Linked DNA regions of Homo sapiens: region 1 is linked to region 2. The links come from fine-mapping of genetic effects on gene expression. A gene starts in region 2. The other region holds a variant in brackets. All regions are shown on one strand. Distances are between the middles of the regions. Region 1 has its middle 7.2 kb from the start of SHD. Region 2 holds the start of YJU2 (YJU2 splicing factor homolog).

Region 1 (4,385 bases), 25 kb before region 2:
TCTGTCTTTTTTTTTTTTTTTTTTTTGAGACAGAGTTTCGCTCTGTCGTCCAAGCTGGAGTGCAGTGGCGCAATCTTGGCTTCATTGTGTTAGCCAGGATGGTCTCGATCTCCTGATCTCGTGATCCGCCCGCCTCGGCCTCCCAAAGTGCTGGGATTACAGGCGTGAGCCACTGCACCTGGCCAGCTCTGCCTTTCTTAACTCACGGTCTGATGGCAGAGGCATGGCCTTGTCCACAGAAGCCCCCAGTCTGATGGAAGAGTTGCGGCTCTGACTTCAGGAGCTTCCATTTGATGGGAGAGATATGGCCCTACCTTGAGGGGTTCCCACTCTGAGGAAGGAGACGTGAACCTATCTTCAGTCTGATGGGGGAGGCAGGTTCAACCTTCAACGGTCCCCTGTCTAATGCAGGAGACATAGTCTTGACTTCCAGGGTCCCAGAGTAATGGAGGAGACATAGGCCTGCCTTCAAGAGTCCCCAGTCTGATGAGGGAGGCATAGTCCAAACTTCAAGCGTCCCCAGTCTGATGGGGGAGGTATGGTGTAAATTTCAAGGGCCCAGTCCAACACAGGAGGCATGGCCCTAACTAACTTACAAGGTCCCAGTCTGCTGGAGGAGAAGCGAGCCTTCCTTCTAGGGGCCCCTACCTGATGGGGGAGGCATGATCCAGCCCTTCCAGGGCTCCAGTCTGACACGCAGGCACAGCCCAGCTCTTGGGGTTGCAGTGGGGTGGGTGACCAAAGGCGTAGCCTCGGAGCCTGGAGCTTCATACCCAGGCCCTGTCCCTCCCTCACCCTGGAGGTCGAGGAGTCTCCCTTACCTGTAAATGGGGCAGCAACAGAGCGTGTGCCCGGGGGGTGTTTGTGGACTGAGTGGGTGGTGTCACCCCATTCCCAGATAAGGAAACAGGCTCAGGGAGCCCCAAGTTCACACTGGAACTGGCAAAAGCTGGGGAAATGGCATGGCCCCTCTTCTCCTGTAAGCCCAGGCTGGGGCGGCAGTGGGCTCCAGCAGAAGGGGCCCCCATCGCCCCTCCTCCCCATCCCTCTGATGTGCTCCAGCAGCCAGGCAGCCCCGGAGGAGTTGATGGAGATCTCAGATGAAGGCTGACAGCTCCCGAAGACAGGATGACAGACGCGGGCTGGTGGGGAACGGGTACTGTCGGCAGGGATAGGGGAAGGGCAGGCTTCAGAGGGTGAGGGTAGGGGGCCCTGAGAGGTGGGGCAGGGCAGGGAGGGGTCCCCCGCTGGTCAGGAGGGACAGAGCCCGATGCATGGCTGTGCCTGCCCCTCTACTCCCTCAGTCCTGGGAACCCCCAGGAGAGAACTGGGGGCTGAGAGCAGAATTGCCCCCAGGACACAGGGTGAGAGAACAAAGCTTCTCAGGGGAAAAAAAAAAGAAATAAAAATAAAATTCCAGTGGTGTATGAAAGAGTGGGGTGTGAGAGGGGAGGAGGTGAAACCTGGGGCTCCCTGAGCCTGTTTCCTCATTGGGGAATGGGGTGATGCCCCCTCAACCCATTTGCGAGCACCCACGATGTGCCAGCTGGTTTTGGGGTGCTGGGGTGCACCAATTTTTTTGAGATGGAGTCTCACTCTGTTGTCCAAGCTGGATGGAGTGCAATGGCATAATCTTGGCTCACTGCAACCTCTGCCTCCCGGGTTCAAGTTATTCTCCTGCCTCGGCCTCTGGAGTAGCTGGGATTACAGGCACCTGCCCCATGCCCGGCTAATTTTTGTATTTTTAGTAGAGACAGAGTTTCACCATGTTGGGCAGGCTGGTCTCAAACTCCTGACCTCAGGTGATACACCTACCTCAGCCTCTGAAAGTGCTGGGATTACAGGTGTGAACCGCTGCGCCCGGCCCGAATAAACTTCTACTGTTTATAATTTACCCAGTCTGTGGTGTTCTGTGAAAGCAGCAGCAAATGGACAAAGACACAAGCTGCAGACAAGGTCTGTGTAGGTAAGAAACTGAGAGTGTTTTCTGGCCAACAGCCATGAGGGACTGAATTCTGTCAACAACCACAAAGGTTTGGCAGCAGGTCCTTCCCCAGTTGAGCCTTCAGATGACACCCCAGCCTGGGCCTGTGTCTTTTTTTTTTTTTTTTCTTTGAGACGGGAGTCTCGCTCTGTCCCCCTGGCTGGAGTGCAGTGGTGCAATCTTGGCTCACTGCAACCTCTGCCTCCTGGGTTCAAGTGATTCTCCTGTCTCAGCCTCCCAAGTAGCTGGAATTACAGGCATGTACCACCATGCCCAACTAATTTTTGTACTTTTTTGTAGTGACAGGGTTTTGCCATGTTGGCCAGGCTGGTCTTGAACTCATGACCTCAAGTGATCCGCCCGCCTCGGCCTGTGAAAGTGGTGGGATTACAGCCATGAGCCACTGCGCCCAGCCTGGCCTCTGTCTTGATTGCATTCTTGCTAAACCTTAAAGCGGGAGACCCAATGAAACCACACCCAGCTCTATGTTGTTTTTAAGTTGTTCAGTTTTGGTATAATTTGTTATGCAGCACCAGAAAACAAACAGAGGGAGAGATGGGCAATAAACACGTTCCCAAGGCATCCCCTCTGCATCTCCTTAGAACA[C/T]ACTCACCTGCTTTATTTTCACCACCTTCGGTATACATTATTTATATGTTATTGTAAAAATATATAATACATAAAAGTTTTTTGGGGGCCGGGTGCGGTAGCTCACGCCTGTAATCCCAGCAGTTTGGGAGCTGAGGCGGGCGAATCACTTGAGGTCAGGAGTTCGAGACCAGCCTGGCAACATGGCAAAACCCCATCTCTACTAAAAATACAAAAATTAAGCCAGGCAGGGTGGCGCGTGCCTGTCATCCCAGCTACTCTGGAGGCTGAGGCAGGAGAATCGCTTGAACCCGGGAGGCGGAGGTTGCAGTGAGCCGAGATCCTGCCACTGCACTCCAGCGGGGGTGATAGAGTGAGATGCTGTCTCAAAAAAAAAAAAAATTAAAATTAAAATAAGAACGGGTGTTGGAAGTGGGAGTTCAACTTTGTTTCTGCCAAATGCTCAGGGAACATTTGATAAACACAGGTTCCTTCCTTCCCTCTGCCAACTCCTTCTGCTGCCCCCGCCGAGGAGGGGAACTTCCCAGCCAGAGCTTTCTACTCATAAAGCCAGTGAGTCCCATCCTTGTTGAGTATGTAGAGCGCAGCCCCTTTGAAGGCAAATTGTAGCATCTTTTTTTTTAATTAATTATTTTTTGAGATGGAATCTCACTCTGTTGCCCAGGCTGGAGTGCAGTGGCATGATCTCAGCTCACTGCAACCTCCACCTTCCAGGTTCAAGTGATCCTCCTGCCTCAGCCTACCAATTAGCTGGGATTACAGGTGCCCGCCACCACATCTGACTAATTTTTTTATTTTTAGTGGGGGTGGTGGGAGTCTCACCATGTTGGCCAGGCTGGTCTTGAACTCCTGACCTCAGGTGATCTGCCCGCCGTGGCCTCCCAAAGTGCTGGGATTACATGCGTGAGCCACCGTGCCCCACCTTTCTTTAAAAAAAGACAAATTGAGAAACGGTCTGGCCATGTTGCCCAGTCTGGACTCGACCTCCTGTCTTCAACCAACCCTCCTGCCTCAGCCCCCCAAAGTCCTGGGATTACAGGAACATGCCACAGTTCCTGTCCTGGGCCTAGCTCCCCACCCCCCTCCCCCTTTTTCAGGCAGGATCTTGGTCTCTCACCAAGGCTGGAGTGCAGTGGTACAGTTACACCTCACTGCAGCCTCAATCTCCCGGGCTCAAGTGATCCTCCCACCTCAGCCTCCCAAGTAGCTGGGATTCCAGGCCTGAGCCACCACACCCGGCTGGAATTCCATTATTTATGCCAGAGTTCAGCCTTCACCTACTGGGGACATTGGGTTCGTTCCCCATAATGTTGCTGCTAAACACAGTGTCACGACAAACCTCCTCGTGGGTGTTTCCTTATGAATGTGGGCAAATACCTCTTAGAACAGACAGCCAGAAATGGAACTGCCTACTCAAAGAAGGTTCATATTGTTCACTTTAAAAGATTCCAGGCTGGTGCAGTGTCTCACGCCTGTAATCCCTGCACTTTGGGAGGCTGAGGCAGTCAGATCACCTGAGGTCAGGAGTTCAAGACCAGCCTGGCCAAGATGGTGAGACCCGTCTCTACTAAAAACACAAAAATTAGCTGGGCGTGGTGGCAGGCACCTGTAATCCCAGCTGCTGGGGAGGCTGAGGCAGAGAATTGCTTGAACCTGGGAGGTGGAGGTTGCAGTGAGCCAAGATCACACCACTGCACTCTAGCCTGGGCAACAGAGGGAGACTCTGTCTCAAACAAACAAACAAAAAGATTGTACAGGCAGGGCACAATGGCTCAGGCCTGTAATCTTAGCACTT
Region 2 (4,385 bases):
GAAACGTTGGGGGAGTTATTTTCAGAAGCAGGGGCAGGACATGGCAGAGGGAAGGGGCTCTGGGGAGCTGTGTCGGGGGTCCCCAAGCCCACCCCAGGTTCCGCGACAGGCAGGGAGGACTCGCAGGACTCAGTACAGTCAGAGGGAGGCCAGGCACAAGCTTCCTGACTCTCTCCTAGTGGAGTTATACAGGACGCATTTAATTCTCCTAAATACCAGTCATGACAATACACATGAAATGCTGTCTACACGGGAAGCTCTAAAAAGCCAGGGTTTGTTTTTGTTTTTGTTCTGAGACGGAGTTTTGCTCTTGTTGCCCAGGCTGGAGTCCAGTGGCGCGATCTTGGCTCACTGCAACCTCCGCCTCCTGGGTTCAAGCGATTCTCCTGCCTCAGCCTCTACAGTAGCTGGGATTACAGGCGCCCACCACCACTCCCCGCTAATTTTTGTATTTTTAGTAGAGATGGGGTTTCACCATGTTGGCCAGGCTAGTCTCGAACTCCTGACCTCAGGTGATCCACCTGCCTTGGCCTCCCAAAGAGCTGGTATTACACACGTGAGCCATCATGCCCTGCCCTTTGTAGAGGTTAAGCTTTGCTTAGCACTTCTGTTGTTCAGGCAGGAGACCGAGTTCCCCGAGGAGTCCCAACTCCCCAGCAATTCTGTAGAGGGTAAACCAGGACTCTGTTAGCTCAGCCTCCCAATCACGATACTACATCCGTTTCCTACAGAGTCATCTCCCTGGATCTGAATCCTGAGGAGCTGAAACCTGCAGGGCTCAGTTTACTCCTCTGTGAAATGCGCACACTGTCCTCTGTCTCCAAGAGTCTTTGCACGCATTCCTTGAGGCAAGGGGGATAAAGTGCTCTTTGCAGTGTCTGGCACCCAGTAGGTGCTCCAAACACAAAGTGCTTTATTTTCCAGTGGTGCAGTGGAGGTATCTGTCATAATCCATACTCACACTCCCTTTGTATCCCAGGGCTCCTGTTTCCCAGGAGTTCCTACAGCAAGCCTGAGACTGCTCTCCTAGAAAGACCTGCGTGGGGCCGGGCGCGGTGGCTCACGCCTGTAATTCCAGCACTTTGGGAGTATGAGGTGGGTGGAATGCCTGAGATCAAGAGTTCAAAACCACCCTGGGCAACATGGTGAAATCTCATCTCTACTAAAATACAAAAAAAATTAACCAGGCATGGTGGCGGGCGCCTGCAGTCCCAGCTACTCAGGAGGCTGAGGCAGGAGAATCGCTTGAACCCAGGAGGCAGAAGCTGCAGTGAGCCAAGAACGTGCCACTGCACTCCAGCCTGGGAAGCAAGCGCAAAACTCCATCTCAAAAAACCAAAAAACAGAAGTGTGCCAACAGTATAGTTTATACTGAACCTCTGCTTTTCTTCTGGGAGTCTGGAATCTTGGCCACTGTCAGGCAGAGGTTATCTGCATGACCAGACCCCAGTAAAATCTTGGCCACTGTAAGGCAGAGGTTATCTGCATGACCAGACCCCAGTAAAAAAAACAAAACACACACACACACACACACACACACACACACACACACACACACACACACACACACACACACACACACACACACACACACACACACACACACACACACACACACACACACACACACGCGCCACCCCACCCCACCCCACCCAAAGTACACGATTGGTTACAGTCCCCAAGTGGGGCGGGGCTTCTCAGAGCCACGCCCCTCAAGAAGAGGGCAAAACACGGCCGCCAGCATTTAAGGAAGCCCCGCCCCCAGAAAAAAAACCCTATCTGGTGGTGATTGGGTAAAAGCCCAAGCCACGCCCCGCAGGTGACTAACTACACCCCAGCCCAGAAGGGAGACTTAGCGAAGGCCCACCCCCCCGACGGAAGGCGATGGGGAGGAGTCTAGGGAGGAGTCTGGGAAGCCCCATCTCGCGGAAGGCCGCTGGGAAAGAAGGGTTCCAAAGAAGAGATCTCAGGAAGCTCCTCCCTCTCCCGGAGTTCCGGGATGTCCTGCTCCGATTGAAAAGCCCCAGTCGCCCAACACTTACGTTTAATACTTTTCGCTCCGACATCTTTGCCTTCTGATCACCTCGCAAGCACCTGAGAAATGGTTAGGCTGGGTAATTATCGAGCTTTTCCGACGGAAGCCTTACTTCCGCAAACGTCACTTCCTTCGGCCGCTATTATTGGCTGCAGCATACACAGCAGACCTCTTTCATTGGTTCCAATCCCCGCCTATCAAGCTGGAAGTCCCAGCGTCTTCCCTCCGGAGTTGCAACCTGAGTAGCGCGAAATAAGGATTCCGGGAGCCATGTGGAATTGGAGAATTTTGTATAGTGCGCTGCGCCCCCTAGAAGCGGGCAGCGGCTCGTTAAAATTTTGTAACGTGACCTCTTGTTCTTCATTCTTTTATTCAGCAAATATGTATTATGCGCCTGCCTTGTATTCTGGGCTCTGGGAATCCACACATCGTTCCTGGGCCCGCAACTCTCACATGGGGTTGGGGCCACACATAGGGTGACTTAAGAGGACCCTGGACGACTCTTGAGTCACAGACATTGACTTAAAGATCAGGCTCCAAACCAACTTCCTAAACATACGCAGTGTCTCCCAAATGTCCCTCCATTGCCCACCTGTGCCTTCCCCTTAACGAGGACTTCCCATCCCATTCCTTCCCCAGCCTCCTTCCCCAGCCTCCTCCCCACCTTTCATGGACGTTTCCTCTGTGTCAGATTGTTCCAGGAAAGGGGTCCGGATCCAGACCCCAGGAGAGGGTTCTTGGATCTCGTGCAAGAAGGAATTCAGGGCGAGTCCACAGTGCAAAGCAAAAACAAGTTTATTTAGAAAGTAGATGAATAAAAGAATGGCTACTTCACAGACAAAGCAGCCCCAAGGGCTGGTGGTTGCCCATGTTTATGGTGATTTATTGATGATATGCTAAACAAGGGGTGGATTATTCATACCTCCCTTTTTTAGACCATATAGGGTAACTTCTTGATGTTGCTGTGGCAATTGTTTGTTTATTTATTTATCTTTTGAGGAGTCTTGCTCTGTTGCCCAGGCTGACGGGCAGTGGTGCGATCTTGGCTCACTGCAACCTCTGCCTCCAGTGGTGCGATCTTGGCTCACTGCAACCTCCACCTCAGGATTCAAGTGATTCTCCTGTCTCAACCTCCCGAGTAGCTGGGATTACAGGCACGCACCACCACACCTGCCTAATTTTTGTAGTTTTAGTAGAGATGGGGTTTCACCATTTTGGCCAGGCAGGTCTCGAACTCCTGACCTCAGGTGATCTGCTCGCCTCTGCCTCCCAAAGTGCTGGGATTACAGGCATGAGCCACTGCACCTGGCCAAAAATCAACTCCATCTTAAAATTAACAAGGCACATTCGCTGCCAGTCACGAGCCAGGGTCATAAGATGTTTACAATTGAGAAAACGTCTTACAAATGCCTAGGAGGACACACTACTACAACAATGGAAGGTCCAGATGTCCTGATATTGCATAGCAATGTATGCTTTTAAGATCGTTATAGTCGCCAGGCGCGGTGGCTCATGCCTGTAATCCCAGCACTTTGGGAGGCCAAGGAGGGTGGATCACCTGAGGTCAGGAGTTCGAGACCAGCCTGGTCACCATGGCCACCATGGTGGAACCCCATCTCTACTAAAAATACAAAAATTAGCCGGGCGTGGTGGCGGGAACCTGTAATCCCAGCTACTTGGGAGGCTGAGGCAGGAGAATTGCATGAACCCAGGAGGCTGAGGTTGCAGTGAACTGAGATCGAGATTGTGCCGCTGCCCTGTGGCCTGGGCGACAGAGTGAGACTCCATCTCAAAAAAAAAAAAAAAGAGAAAAAAAAGAAAAAGATACCGGGCATGGTGGCTTACGCCTGTAATCCCAGCACTTTGGGAGGCCGACGTGGGCGAATCACCTGAGGTCAGGAGTTCAAGACCAATCAGACCAACACGGAGAAACCCCGTCTCTACTAAAAATGCAAAATTAGCCAGGTGCGGTGGTGCAGGTCGAGAGTTCAAGACCAACCAGACCAACATGAAGAAATCTTGTCTCTACTAAAAATACAAAATTAGCCGGGCATGGTGGTGCATGCCTGTAATCCCAGCTGCTTGGGAGGCTGAGGCAGGAGAATCACTTGAACCTGGGAGGCAGAGGTTGCGGTGAGTCGATATGGCGCCATTGCACTCCAGCCTGGGTGACAAGAGTGAAACTCCATCTCAAAAAAAAAAAAAGAAAATATGGTTATAGTCATGGTGTAATGTACTTAGGCACTAAAATGGCAAGGATATGTATGTATACTTTTTGAGACAGGGTCTCGCTCTGTCACCTAGGCTGGAGTGCAGTAACGCAATCATGGCTCTCTGTGGCCTCCACTTC

What was found. PIP is the estimated chance that this variant, and not a neighbour inherited with it, causes the effect. A credible set is the group of variants that fine-mapping cannot tell apart.
Region 1: its variant is the best candidate, but not a certain one, in a credible set for the expression of YJU2 in whole blood (TOPMed, PIP 0.51).

What each region holds. Positions count from the first base shown.
Region 1 is chr19:4,269,831-4,274,215 of GRCh38, reverse strand. No RefSeq gene overlaps it. Among named protein-coding and RNA genes, the nearest start is that of SHD, 7.2 kb to the left of the region's middle. The variant C/T (reference allele first, on the strand shown) is at 2,591.
Region 2 is chr19:4,244,828-4,249,212 of GRCh38, reverse strand. It overlaps YJU2 (YJU2 splicing factor homolog), which reads right to left and starts at 2,133. Exons shown (of 8, transcript NM_018074.6): 1 at 2,043-2,133. The coding sequence starts at 2,066. RefSeq lists enhancers at 1,974-2,063, 2,404-2,543, 2,302-3,073.